Linked DNA regions of Homo sapiens. The protein of the gene in region 1 purifies or fractionates together with the protein of each later gene. This does not show direct contact. Each region holds a gene or a part of one and is shown in the gene's direction. Other genes may lie near its edges.

Region 1 (3,642 bases):
TCCTACCTCAGCCTCCTAAGTAGCTGGGACTATAGGCACACGCTACTGTGCCTGGCAACCATTTGCTTTTTTATAAGTAATAGTCTTAAATTTCTTCACAGGTAGAGCACTAGTTTGCCCCCAAAGTCATAAATTTGTCTCTCTCTCTTTCTGACTGTGCATGTCTGTGTGTGTGTGTGTGTGTGTGTGTGTGTGTGTGTGTGTGTGTGTGTATGTGTAATGGTCTTTGGAGTCTCCATACCATGTAATTAAAGCTATGGGCAGAATCCATGCCTTTTGTATTTTTGAAGCTTATTGTAGAAGTCATGTGTTGGTGATTCCTACACCCACTTAGTGGTGCCTAATGTTAGAAGAGCCCCATATTCTCCTGTTTACTTATGTTTTCTGTGCCTAAAAGGATTTACAGGTTAAGAGTACATGTAGACCTCATTTTTGGAATGGAAGTTTCTAGGATACCCACTTTAGCCTAATCTAAGATGATGCTTAGTGGGTGTATAGATGCTTTCTTAATCTGTGTAAGCAGGAAATTTTTTTTGGGTCCTGTTTCTCCCATATCACATAGAGAGGAAATTCTTGGAGTATCTAGTCTTTATAGTATGTGTGGTAGAGTATAGTCTGTGCCTTTGTGAATAAAATGACCTGTTTTGGCCAAGCAAAAATTTTCCCTTTTCTTTTTCTGTCTGACAAGATGAGCTGTCTTCTTTTATTATTATTGCCTTTGAATTTTCAGTGTGAAAAGGTAACAGTGTTCTTCAAAAAATACTCATGTAATTGGCATTTGATGAATAATACTAAAATCCTCCGTCTCATCTTTCCTAAATATTTTGTTTATTTTTATTTATTTTTTTGAGACAGGGTCTCATTCTGTCACCCAGGCTGGAGTGCAGTGGCACGATCTTGGCTCACTGCAACCTCCGCCTCCTGGGTTCAAGCGATTCTTCTGTCTCACCCTCCTGAGTAGCTGGGATTACAGATATCCACCACCACTCCCAGGTAATTTTTATATTTTTGGTAGAGACAGCGTTTTGTCACGTTGGCCAGGCTGGTCTCAAACTTCTGGCCTCAAGTGATTCTCCCACCTTGGTCTCCCAAAGTGTTGGGATTACAGGTGTGAGCCACCATGCCTGGCCTTCATTTTTCCTAAATATTTATAACCACCGGGCATGGTGGCTCACGCCTGTAATCACAGCACTTTGGGAGGCCAAGGCGGGTGGATCAGCTGAGGTCAGGAGTTAGAGACCAGCCTGGCCAACATGGCAAAATTCTGTCTCTATTAAAACAAAAAATTAGCCGGGCTTGGTGGAGGGCGCCTGTAATCTGAGTTACTCAGGAGGCTGAGGGAGGAGAATCGCTTGAACCCAGGAGGCAGAGGTTGCAGTGAGCCGAGATCACGCCACTGCCCTCCAGGCAGGGTGACAGAGAGAGACTCTGTCTCAAAAAAAAAAAAAAATAAATTATTTTAGAAACAAGTACCTAGACATCCAAAAAGATGATGAATTGGTGTGTAGTTTGGGAGTGAAGTTTGTCTTGTTGCTCTAATGGGGCAGGATTAGGTGAGAAATAAGAAATGTGGAGCCCTAGTATTTTTGCTCTAGAATTAGTTGGTCTTCTACATTTTGTGTACAGAGGAGTAGACCCTCTAAGGACCTCTTTATATTTAATATCAGAGCCAAGAGCTGAGAAAAAACAAGCTACTCTTTCTTGCTGGCCAAGCAAAAGACCTTTTGGTTAGAGGAATGGACTCACATCTTTCAGTACATTTTTTTTTTTTTTTTGAGATGGAGTCTTGTCGCCCAGGCTGGCACGATCTTAGCTCACTGCAACCTCTGCTTCCTGCATTCAAGTGATTCTCCTGCCTCAGTAGTGAGATTACAAGTGCGTGCCACCATGCCTGGCTAATTTTTCTATCTTTAGCAGAAATGGGGGTTTCACCATATTGGCCAGGCTGGTCTCGAACTCCTGACCTCAGGTGATCTGCTCGCCTAGGTCTCCCAAAGTGCTGGGATTACAGCCGTGAGTCACCCACCTGGCCCTTTTGTTATTTTAAACATTGGGGTAAATACCTGCTTCGTATTTCTTCAGGCATTCTTAGCATGTTTCTTAGCTATCGAAGCCCTTGATTAGAAGAGCTAGCACTGCATTGAATCCTATTAAGAAATGTATCCATGTTCAGAATAGAAGTTAGGTTAAAAATTTCTTAAAAACCACTTTAGGCCTGGTGCGGTGGCTAACGCCTGTAATCCCAGCACTTTGGGAGGCCGAGGTGGGTGGGTCACAAGATCAGGAGTTTGAGACCAGCCAGACCAACATGGTGAAACCCCATCTCTACTAAAAAACAAAAATTAGGTGGGCGTGGTGGCACGCACCTGCAATCTCAGCCTACTCAGGAGGCTGAGGCAGGAGAATTGCTTGAACCTGGGAGGCAGAAGTCGCAGTGAGCTGAGATCGCGTCACTGCACTCCAGCCTGGGTGACAGAGTGAGACTCCATCTCCAAAAAAAAAAAAAAAACCACTTTAAAAAATGGTTTTTATTTTAAATTTTTATTTATTTATTTTGAGATTAGGATTACAGGTGTGAGCCACCACACCCAGCCTATTTTTATTTATTTATTTATTTTTAGAGATGGGCTTTTGCTCTGTCACCCAGGCTGGAATGCAGTGGCATGATCATAGTTCACTGCAACCTCGAATTCCTGGGCTCAAGCAATCCTACTGCCTCAGCCTCCCAAAGAGCTAGGTCTAACTAGAGGTGTACTCCACCACTCCACCTGATTTAAAAAAAAAAAAATGTTGCCCAGGCTAGTCTTGAACTCCTGGCCTCAAGGGATCCTTCTGCCTGGGCCTCCAAAAATGCAGAGATTACAAGTTGTAAGCCACTGTGCCTGACCGAAAAACCAATTTTTAAATTTTAATTTTAGAATTGTGGTCTTTTAATTTTTTTAGCAAATCGAAATAAAAATACAGTTTCTAAAGAAAAGATTGTGTGAGACATGGTTTTCAATTTTTGTCGTAAGAATGAATGTGTGTGTATATGTGTGTTTGTGTGTGTATGTGTGTGTGTGACGGCCCTCTTTTAAAATTATTACAAAAGTGGCCGGGCGCGGTGGCTCACGCCTGTAATCCCACCACTTTGGGAGGCCAAAGCGGATGGATCATCTGAGGTCAGGAGTTTGAGACCAGCCTGGCCAACATGGTGAAAGCCTGTCTCTACTAAAAATACAAAAATTAGCTGGGTATGGTGGCAGGCGCCTGTAATCCTAGCCACTTGGGAGGCTGAGGCAGGAGAATCTCTTGAACCCGGGAGACGGAGGCTGCAGTCAGCCAAGATCATACCAGTGCACTCCAGTCTGGGTAACAGAGCAAGACTCCATCTCAAAAAATTAGAAAATAATAAAATTATTACAAAATAGTTACTTGTTGAAAAACTCAACAATATAGATAGTAGGTATAAGGGGAAAAGTAAAAGTGCTTCTTCCCACCCCCATTAATTCTTCAAATTCTACCCTTCAAGGTAACCAATATTAAAATTTTTCATTCAGTAAATTTTCTAGGCCTATCTTTCTATGTATATATGTATATATGTTCATATACACATACTTTAAAGGCATATCAAATTTAAAAGTGTAGCTTTATATCACACTG
Region 2 (3,642 bases), about 68 Mb from region 1:
CTGTACTTTGTGAAATTAACTATCCATCATCTGCAAAATCCAGTCTGAACCATTCTTAGATGTTGCTTTCACTTTCTTGCTGTAATGGAAACCGGACTCTCTTCCACTGTGCAGTTGTGGCTGTTTTTGTTTGTTTGCTCCGTAACTTTCCTCCCACTGTTTCTAGAGGTGGGAAAGATATCTGTCATGAGTCTTCTTACTTCTTTCAGACTATGCTTCCTCCTTTCTCCCTATAATCTTCAGTTTTGAATTATGTCATAAAGGCCCACTGTCCCACTCTCCAGTCTTTATATTGAAATTGATAAGAATGTACATAACTGATCCACCCAAACCCTGGCCTCTCACTTCCTAGACCTCTCTTCCAGTGCTCTTCCCATCTATGCTATATCAGCCACTCATTCCACAGTGATACCCTCGTGCACTGTCAATAACTGCAGTCCCTCCATAGTTGCCATTTCATGTGTTCTGCTCTGTTACCGCTTCTTCCTATTTTTGCAGCTCACTCCTAGTGCCTCAGCCCTAACCATCTTCTGACCCCAATGGAATCTCCAACCCATTGATCCTATTACTGCTCCCCTGCCCCTTACCCTCTTGATGTTTTCACTCCCTTTTATGTGGAATTTACTCATCTAAATTTCATGATTAATCAGTTTAATTACTTCTTTGGATCCCTTTCCTTGCTCTTTGCTTGTTTGGCAAAACCAGAGCTCTAGTTAAAACAAACTCTGGGGTTTTTTTTGCACTTGCCCCTATGTAACTGAGCATGGCCAGAAAAAAAACCACACAACCACACATGGCCACAAACCTTAAGTGGGTCTGTAATGCTGCCTGATGGTTGTACTGTATTTTCCTAGTCTGCTTACTCTTCCACTCCTCTAAATGACTATTTCATATCTTATTTTCCCCAAACCTTCTATATCTCTTTTCCCATCCTCACCTTCAGCTCATGACCTTGCTTCCCACTTTGCTGAGAAAATTGAAGTAATCAGAACTTCCATAGATTGCCACCACTCCACATACCTCTGGCACTCTATTTATGAAAGGGTCTGCGCAGCATCTGCTCAGTACATGGCTGTCTTCCTGCCTGTTACCTTAGATTAACTGTTCATATTCTTGTCTGCCTTTGTACTAGGCCCCATTCTCTCTCATCTGCTCAAGGACTTTGCTTCAGGTTCTCTTCTTCCACATCATCAATTTTGTTCTTTTTATTGAATCATTTCTATCAGCAAACAGATATGCTATTATTTCTCCCCTCTTAGGAAAAAATCTTGTCCCACTTCACCACATTACCCCAATTTTTTGTTTCCTTTGGGAGCAGTATTTCTCAAAATAGTTGTCTGTACTTGCTATTGCCAAGTTCTCTCCTCTAGTACTCTGTTAAACCCACTCTAGTGAGGTCTTTGTCTGCACCACTCCCACAGAAACAGCTCCTCTGGTTCTTCAGTAGCCCCCATATTGTTAAATGCCCTGTGTTATTGATTCTCATCCTATGTGACCTGTCAGCAGCATTTGACACAGCTGTTTGCTTCCCTTAGCCTTGAAACCATTTCTTCTTTGCCTTCGAGGACGTCACACGTTCCTGGTTATCTGCTGTCTCAGTGCTGGTCCTTGTAATTCTCCTTTTCCTTTATTTTCACTGACCTCTTAATGTTGGAGAGCCCCAAGTCTTAATTGTTTGTTTATTTGTTTCTATCTATGCTCACTTTATTGGTAATCTCATTTAGTCTCATGGCTTGAAATACCATGTAAATATCAACAATACCCAAATTTAGATCTTTAGCCCCCTCCTCAATTCCAGTCTTACATGTGCAACTACCTATTCAACATCTCCCCTAAATGTTTAATAATAGACATCAAAGTCAGCATATCCAAAACTAAACTCCTAAACTTTCTCCCCAATGCCTGCTTTACCCACAGACTCTCCCATTTCTGTCAGTGGCAACTCCGTCCTCCTGTAGCTCAGACCAAAATCTTGGCCTTATTTTTTTACTTCACTTTTTCTTTTACTCTTCAGATCTGTTCTTTCAGGACAATCTGTTTTCTGTATCGTCAAAATACATCGAAAATCCTATCATGCCTCACTGCTTCCTCCACTGCCACCACCCTTGTCCAAGCCACTACCATCACATCTTGTTGGATTACTGAAATAGGTTACTACCTGGTCTGCCCCTTCTGCCCTATCCCCTTCCAACAGTATTTTCTCAATACAGTAGCCAGAATAAACCTTTCGCAAATTAAGACAGTCCCTGTCACTTCTCCTGCAATGGCTCCTGTTACGATCTGAATGTATGTGTCCTCCCAAACTGTTGAAATCCTAACTCCCAAGGTATTAGGAAATGGGAGTGGAGTCCTCATGAATAGGATTGGTGCCCTTAAAAAGTCCTAGAGGCCAGGTGCGGTGGCTTATGTCCGTAATCCCAGCACTTTGGGAGGCTGAGGTGGGCGGATCATGAGGTCAGGAGATCGAGACCATCCTGGCTAAAACCGTGAAACCCTGTCTCTACTAAAAATACAAAAAATTAGCCGGGCGTGGTGGCACGTGCCTGTAGTCCCAGCTACTCGGGAGGCTGAGGCAGGAGAATCGCTTGAACCCAGGAGGCGGAAGTTGCAGTGAGCTGAGGTCACGCCACTGCACTCCAGCCTGGGTGACAGGGTGAGACTCTGTCTCAAAACAAAACAAAACTCTAGAGAGATCCCTTGCCCTTTGTCTCTTGAGGACACAGCAAGAAGTCTGTGAGCTAGAAAGCAGCCCTCACCAGATACTGAATATGCCTTGCTCTTGGACTTCCCATCCTACAGAATGGTAAGCAATCAATTTCTGTCATTTATAAGCTATCTCATTTATGGTATTTTGTTATAGCAACCCGAATGGACTAAGACATTCCCTTTCATTCACTCAGAGAAAAGCTGGTCCTGTGAGGCTCTACATGATCTGCCCAATCCACTCCACTTTCTCCTTACCTTCCTGACCTCATTTACTGTTACCACTGTTCTCCCCTTACTCACTGGCCTGCTTGCTATGTCTGTCCTGTTCCTACTTTAGGACTCTTGCTGGCTCCACTCTCTGAAATGTACTTCTTCCACATATCTGCTTGGCTCAATGGACTTACCTCCCAGTCTTTGCTCAGATCTTACCATCTATGAATACCCTGTTTAATACTATATTCTATCCTGCCCTTCCCCACCCACTCTTATCCTGGACTCCTTTTTATTTTTTGCATAGCACATACAACCTTCTAACATACTATATTAGGGGTCAGCAAGCCACAGCTCCATGAGCTTCTGCCCTGTTTTTGTACATCCTATAAGCAAAAGAATGGTTTTTACATTTTTAAACGGTTATGAAACAAAGCAAAAAATACGTGACATATATATGTGGCCTGCAAAGCCTAAAATATTTACTCTCTGTCCCTTTTCAAAAAAAGTTTACACTATGTATTTTATTCTGTTTATTGTCCTCCTCCTCCTGCAAGAATACAAGCTCCAAGAGGGCAAGATCTTTGTTTTATTTTTTGCTGTATCTGCAAGATACAGATACAGAGCCTAGAATGTAGTAGACACTTAGTAAGTATTTGTTAAATGAATTGTTCGTGATGGTGCAAAATGGTAATTATGTTAAATGTTCACCAATAGACCTATATA
Region 3 (3,642 bases), on another chromosome or scaffold:
ATCTAACTTTGTGTTCATAGTGTCTGACTTACAGTGGTCATTAATATAGCCATAATAAATAATGAATACATATTGATTATCTTAACCCTGGCCTAGTTATTATCTCAGTAATAAAAGACTAGATATATTTAGATCCATGTCAGCTACTAATTTAGTTAATAGTTTAAGTTCTTGTTTTTTCAGTTCGTGCAATATACATGATTGGGTGTTTCCTATAGGCCAGGCAGCTTGCGGGGCTGTGGAGTGAAAAGACTTGGGAAATAAAGGCGTTATTAAGAGAGTTAAGTGGTTTAAGGGTATTTCAAGGTACAGAGCTTGATAAATTCAGGAAGTTTATACTTGAAATTTGCTAAGTAAGTAGATCTTAAATGTTTTTACCACAATTAGCTGGGCATGACAGCATGCGCCTGTAGTATGCTTATAGTCCTGGCTACTCCGGAGGGGCTGGGGCAGGAGGACTGCTTCAACTCAGAAGTTTGAGGCTGCAGTGAGCTGTGATTGGGCCACTGCACTCCAGGCTGGGCAACAGAGACCCTGACTCAAAAAGGAAAAAAAAAAAACTAACTGAGGTGATGGATACGTTAATTAGCTTAATAGTGGTAATAACACACACACACACACACACACACACACACACACACACACACACACACACACACAGTTTTGGTTTTTTTTTTTTTTTGGAGACAACGCCTCACCCTGGCCCAGGCTGAAGTGTGCAGTGGCGTGATCTTGGCTCACTGCAAGCGTAGCCTCTTGGGCTCAAGTGATCCTCCCACCTCAACCTCCCAAGTAGCTGGGACTACAGGCATGTGCCACCACACGTGGCTAGTTTTTAGATTTTTTTGTAGAGGCAGGGTCTCACTGTGTTGCCCCTGCTGGTCTCGAACTCCTGGGCTCAAGTGATCTGTCCCCCTTGGCCTCCCAAAGTGCTGGGGTTACAGGCATAATCAATCATGCCTGGCCTTATAATTTTTAATTGTCAGTTATACCCCAGTAAAGGTGGAAAAGCAGGAAGACAACAGGGAAAAAAATTTTAATAAACTTGAAAAAAAAGGTCCAAGTTTCTTTTTTTGGAGGTGTTTATATTATTAATATATGTGGTTAAAGTAATTTTTAAAACTTTATGTAACTCTTTGTTACGTGTCATTTTGTGATAATCTCTTGTTTACTAAGTTCATTTTTTACAACTTGTACAGTATTCCCATTGTGAGACTAAGTAGTAAAACCCAGTTAATACATACCTATATTTAAAGAGGAAAATATTTTAGTTGAGCCTTTTTGATTTCCATGTAATTTAGAAATAAGATGATTTTATTCTCTTCATTTTCATAAACTGAATAATTATTGCTTTCTTACATATAGAGACAGTACTTTTAGGTACAGACTGTTTTTGCTTTCTAGCCATTTGTATTCTAAGAAAATTAAAATCATTTCCCTTTTTTTTCCTTTCATAAGATTTACCAAGTGTTTTGGAAAAGTTTGACATAAAAGCTTACAGGTCTGTCAGAGGAGATTTTAAAAGGGATTTCATGGGAAGTCTTTTTTTTTTTTTTTTGAGATGGACTCTCACTCTGTCACCCAGACTGGCGTGCAGTGGTGCAGTCTCAGCTCACTGCAACCTCCGCCTCCCAGGTTCAAGCAATTCTCCTGCCTCCGCCTCCCAGGTTCAAGCAATTCTCCTGCCTCAGCCTCCCAGGTAGCTGGGACGACAGGCCTGTGCCACCATGCCCGGCTAATTTTTGTATTTTTAGTAGACATGGGGTTTCACTATATATTGGCTAGGCTGGTTTTGAACTCTTGACCTCAAGTGATCCACCCACCTCAGCCTCCCAAAGAGCTGGGATTATAGGCGTGAGCCATCGCGCCCGGCCCGGAAAGTCTTTAATGAGAAGCACTAGCTTCCAGACAAAATTTCATGAGATAGTATAGTTTGTTCAACTCAAACCCAGGATCTTTAATGTCCGAGCAACCACTTTGCTATCAAAGTTGGAGTTAATTGCATTAAAAGGAGTTATCAGATCAATATTCTACTGTTGTTGAATCATCTGAGTAAAGAAATACTGTCTCTTTTTAAATTTATTTTGAGGTAATCTCAAATTTATTTAAAAAACTAGAAGACTTAATGCAGTTGGAAAAATAGTACAGAGAATTTCTGTATAGACTTGACTTAGATTGACCAATTTTTAACATTTTGCCACTTTTGCTTTATTATTCTCTCTATATATGTAAATTTATATGTCTAACCATATATTCTGAACCATTTAAGAACAAGTTGCATGCATCATACCCCTTTACTTGTTAATACTTCAGAATATATTTCCTAGGAAGAAGACTATTCTGTTGTATAACTCTAGTATTGTTAACTAATTTCAGGAGATTTAACACTGACATAATACTTTAATCTACAGTGCATATTTTGACAATTGTCTCAATAAGGTTCCTTCCAGCTTTTTTTCTCTCTAGTCCAGTAATCTAGAACAGGATCACATATTACATTGTAATGTCTCTTTTTAGTTTTCTGTGATCTGGAACAGTTTCCCAGTTTTGTCTTTCTTGACAATGATATTGATTGAAGAATATAGGTCTTATTTAATAGAATATTCCTCAACTTAGATTTGATTAATATTTTCTCATGGTTAGATTCAGGTTATGCATCCCTGGCTGGAATACTACATAAATGATGGTTTGTTGATTTGTTCTTTTTGGGGGTATTGCAAGGGACCAAGTAATGTAAGGCTTCATAAAGAGTTTGGAGTTTGTTAAACGTAATGCAGAGTCATTAGAGAGTCTTAAAAACTAAAGTATATTTTAGAAATGTCACTCTGGCAGCTACAGAAAGGCAAGGTGGGCAGACGCAGACCAGACAAGAGACTATTTTGTAGTTCCGGTACAGTAAGGTATTTGTAAGGTAACTTAGAGGTAATAAAGTAATAAGGTAACTTAGATTTGGATGACAGTAATGAAGCTGATGAGACAGATTCAACAGTGCTTTATAAAATTAACTTATATTACTATTATGAGTAATTTATACTTTATTCCAACTGCATTAGCATACATTTGAAAAAGTAATAGCAGCAAAATAATAAGACATTATTCCATGTTAGGGGCAGTGCTTATTGGGCACATGGATTTGCAGTTCCTTTTCAACAATTTCTTAGTTCCCAGGAGATTGCATACCCTTAGTACGTTTATCTCAAACTACAACAGATGCTCTTATCCAGTATGTTATACTGCTTATGATTTCAACAAGCAGTTCAGTCAGGAAATGTTTTGTGAACACCTGCTGCTAGACATGGATCTATGCTCTGATACAGTGGTGAAACAAGTGCATTTACAAATAAATAATATAATTTTAGCTAGCGAAGGATAAATGTAAATCAGTGAAGCGTGGTAAGGAATGGAGAGTAAGGGAGGAGGGAGGCACGTGATTCTTAAGCAGTCCTTGAGCAGAATGATATCTGAATGATGAAAGTGAAATGTGAGATGATGAGAGGCAGTAGCAAAAATAGAGGCATCAAGAAAGGTACAAGCTTAGAGAATCAGGACTAGCAAGAAGACATAGTCTGCCTGGCTCATGAGCTAAGGGCAGGACATGAGGCAGTTTAATGTGTTAGAGGCATGAATTTACTATGAAAAGAT
Region 4 (3,642 bases), on another chromosome or scaffold:
TTATGTTGAGACAGTATTTCTTTTTGGTGGTGGTATCTTTGCCATGGCCCTGTGTCTTATTTCAGATGCATTATCCTCGTACCGTGACTCCCACACTAACAGAGTACTGACCTCTCCACCGTTTCGCCTCATGCCTTTCCCTCCTTCCTCTCCTAGACTGCTGGTTACCTTGGCTGGGAGAGAGGATGTAGTGGGACATTCCTGTAACACTTTATCCGCACATCTACTGGAAATCGTTACCATGTTAATAACTTGGTTTTGAATTCATGTTAACATGTGTACCCATGAACATTTTTCATTTTCTTTTCATAGTGCGATACATAGGTGCATGACAGCATTAACCTGGGGACGTAGAATATGATCAAGGCAGCATTACTGCTTTAACTTTAGAATGACTTACTATTTATTAATTTAAACAGACTGCTGTTTCCACAACCTTAGCATTGAAGGTCTTTCATTTTCTCCCATCAAGCTATGTTAGTTTAGGTAATGTAGAAATATTTACCCTCTGGCTTAAGCTGGTTTAGAGTAACTAACTAGAGCTATAGTTTGCATGGGAAAGTCTGCACGAGCTTCTTGTCAGATATTTCTTGCTCTTCTGTCGCATTACTTACTAAACCTCCCAACTCTCATCATATTCTTCATTTAACCACCTCCTACATGTTTTCTTTTGGACCATGGCCTAAAATTTAATTGTTTGTGTTTTACTTGCGTTGGATTTCAAATATTATTTGATGCTTATTTTTGTTTTGTGTCTTCTTGTTTCTGATTTTTACTCTGTCACGGCTCCATCTCTTACATGTAGCTTATGTCCCTTTTAACATCCCCCCATCAGCCTCCCCCTCCCCCTCCTGCCTCTGCCTCACCCTCTGCTGTTCCCAACGGCCCCCAGTCTCCCAAGCAGCAAAAGGAACCCCTCTCCCATCGCTTCAACGAGTTCATGACCTCCAAACCCAAAATCCACTGCTTCAGGAGCCTAAAGCGTGGGGTAAGTTCTGCTCCGGAATCCTGTCTCTCTGGCGTGCTTTGGTTGCATGTTTGGTTCTGCATAACTAATTTTGTTTGTGAATGAATCCATTGTGTTTTCCCATAACATATAAAAAAGTTAAAAAAAAAAAAACAAAAACCATTATAGCTAGAAAGAAAAGCCAGAAAGAGGAAGAAAGAAAGAAGGAAGCATGGTGGTTGGAAGAAAGGAGAAAACCAGACAGCCCAGAGTTCTTTCTATTTGTTTCTTTCTTTTTTTTTTTTTTCCAGACAGAGTCTCGCTCTGTCACCAGGCTGGAGTGCAGTGGCGTGATCTCGGCTCCCTGCAACCTCCACCTCCCGGGTTTAAGCGATTCTCCTGCCTCGGCCTCCTGATTAGCTGTGATTACAGGCATATGCCACCACGCCCAGCTACTTTTTATATTTTTAGTAGAGACAGCATTTCATCATGTTGGCCAGGATGGTCTCGATCTCTTGACCTTGTGATCCGCCCGCCTCGGCCTTACAAAGTGCTGGGATTACAGGTGTGAGCCACTGCGCCCGGCCTTTTTCTTTTCGTTTCTAGTACATTTTGGAAGGACTTTACCCCTCTTCCTCTTTAAAGCATCCAAGTCATGCATTTTCTACCTTAATTTTACCAAAAAAAACCACTTAGATTTCATTTCTAAAACTAGCGACCTGAGACTGGGCGTGATAGTTCACATCTGTAATCCTAGCACTTTAGGAGGCCAAGGCAGGAGGATTGCTTGAGCTCAGGAGTTCAAAACCAGCTTGGACACCATAGTGAGACCCCCATCTCTTAAAAAAATATATAAAAATTAATAGGACAAGCGCAGTGTCTCATGCCTGTAATCCTGGCACTTTGGAAGGCCGAGGCAGGAAGATTACTTGAGCTCAGGAGTTCAAGACCAGCCAGTACAACATAGTCAAACCCCATCTCTAAAAAAAAATAATAAATAATAAAAACATAAAACTAGCAACCTATGAGATGAGGAATTGGAAGTCACTGTGTAAGTCAGAAAATATTGCCTTAATAACTACTGAAGCAATGTGAGTGTAATGAAGATACTTGCCTGAGCTATGCCTCAGGGTCGAAAGGAGAAGAGTCATAAGTCACAGTGGTTTCATTCGCTATTTTAGTGAGATTATATAAGATGTTGATAAAATATCTGTTGATTGGAAGGGGCCTGATGCAGAATTTCTCTTTAAAGGATGAAACAATAAAAGCAGCTGACACTTACTGAGCACTTATTGTGTGCAAAGCTCTGTTCTGTGTGCTCATTTACTTTTTTCCAGCCACCCTATGAAGCCCAGGTAGTACTCATATTTCCTTATTTTACTGTAAGGAAATTGAGGCATAAAAAGGTGAAGGTGGGAAGATACAGAGCCGGGATTTAGATCCGGGGAGTCTGATTACAGAGTCTGAGATTCTGTGACATCCACATTCAGGGAGAAACTACTATATTGACTCGTAAGTGGTTGTTATTAAGATTGAAGTCCGCTGTCCTCATTAAGATTGATGTGCGCTTACATCATAGAGATAATGGAATTGATGCAGCCATCCAATGTAGATACCAGTTTCGTTTACAGAGAAAGATTGGCATAAAGCAATGTGTAGATTCCCAAATCATTCTCAATGGCCAGTCTAGTCTAAGCCTTCCCAAAATATCTTTTATAATGAATATAATGAGTAAACAGATCTTTAGACTGGGCCCAGTGGCCCACGCCTGTAATCCCAGCAGCGTTAACATATCCAGTAAGGTTTTCTCCTTTTTTTTTTTTTTAAATCCTACCCTGTGGGAGTTGCAATACAGTTGTAGTGGAATGCTTTCTTGTACAAACATAAGTTTTACTTTTCCCTTCTCCTGGACTCTCCAGTCAACTGACGGTTGGGTTACTTCTTTCCAAATAGTACCTGGTAGTGCCCCAAAGCCAGAGGTGGATGCCATCCTTTCTTGAGTGTCAACTGACACATTGGCCTGGGAAAAGATTCTAAACTACAACTAATTAACTAGAGGAGAGATGTCCTTCTTAGACTTGGAATCAACAGCTGGTTACTAGTAAAAGAATAACAGTAGTCATTGTTAACCTGACAATCGTATTTCCACAAAAACAACTCTGTGTAAAAAAGAGGCCTGGCACAGTGGCTCATGCCCGTAATCCCAGCACTTTGGGAGGCCGAGGAGGGCGGATCACCTGAGGTCAGGAGTTCGAGACCAGCCTGACCAACATGGTGAAACCCCGTCTGTACTAAAAATACAAAAATTAGCCGGGCATGGTTAATGTCCGGCTAATTACAGGCGGGTGCCTGTAATCCCAGCTACTCGGGAAACTGAGGCAGGAGAATCGCTTGGACCTGGGAAGTGGAGGTTGCAGTGAGCCAAGATCACGCTATTGCACTCCAGCCTGGACGACAGAGCAAGACTCTGTCTCAAAAAAGAAAAAAAAAAAACCCATGAAAAAATAGCCAGGCATGGTGGCATGTGCCTGTAGTCCTAGCGGAGGCTGGGATGAGAGGATTGCTGGAGCCCAGCCAGGGCAACAGAGTGAGACCCTTTCTCCAAAAAAAAAAAAAGTAAAGAATGTAAATTCATAATTGATAACAAGTTTATTATCAATGCTTTTTAAAAATAGGGGACAAAACAATATTTCCTC

Evidence for each region.
Region 2: the proteins of ANKHD1 (region 1) and TNPO1 fractionate together in Homo sapiens (co-fractionation; one large-scale study listed by BioGRID). This does not show direct contact.
Region 3: the proteins of ANKHD1 (region 1) and TSNAX fractionate together in Homo sapiens (co-fractionation; one large-scale study listed by BioGRID). This does not show direct contact.
Region 4: the proteins of ANKHD1 (region 1) and FNBP1 fractionate together in Homo sapiens (co-fractionation; one large-scale study listed by BioGRID). This does not show direct contact.

Annotation. Positions count from the first base shown.
Region 1 is NC_000005.10:140,404,803-140,408,444, forward strand, and holds part of ANKHD1 (ankyrin repeat and KH domain-containing protein 1), read left to right. Parts: intron 1-3,642. UniProt on the Homo sapiens protein: May play a role as a scaffolding protein that may be associated with the abnormal phenotype of leukemia cells. Isoform 2 may possess an antiapoptotic effect and protect cells during normal cell survival through its regulation of caspases.
Region 2 is NC_000005.10:72,823,019-72,826,660, forward strand, and holds part of TNPO1 (transportin-1), read left to right. Parts: intron 1-3,642. UniProt on the Homo sapiens protein: Functions in nuclear protein import as nuclear transport receptor. Serves as receptor for nuclear localization signals (NLS) in cargo substrates.
Region 3 is NC_000001.11:231,531,527-231,535,168, forward strand, and holds part of TSNAX (translin-associated protein X), read left to right. Parts: intron 1-3,642.
Region 4 is NC_000009.12:129,921,190-129,924,831, reverse strand, and holds part of FNBP1 (formin-binding protein 1), read left to right. Parts: intron 1-805; coding exon 806-988; intron 989-3,642. UniProt on the Homo sapiens protein: May act as a link between RND2 signaling and regulation of the actin cytoskeleton. Required to coordinate membrane tubulation with reorganization of the actin cytoskeleton during the late stage of clathrin-mediated endocytosis.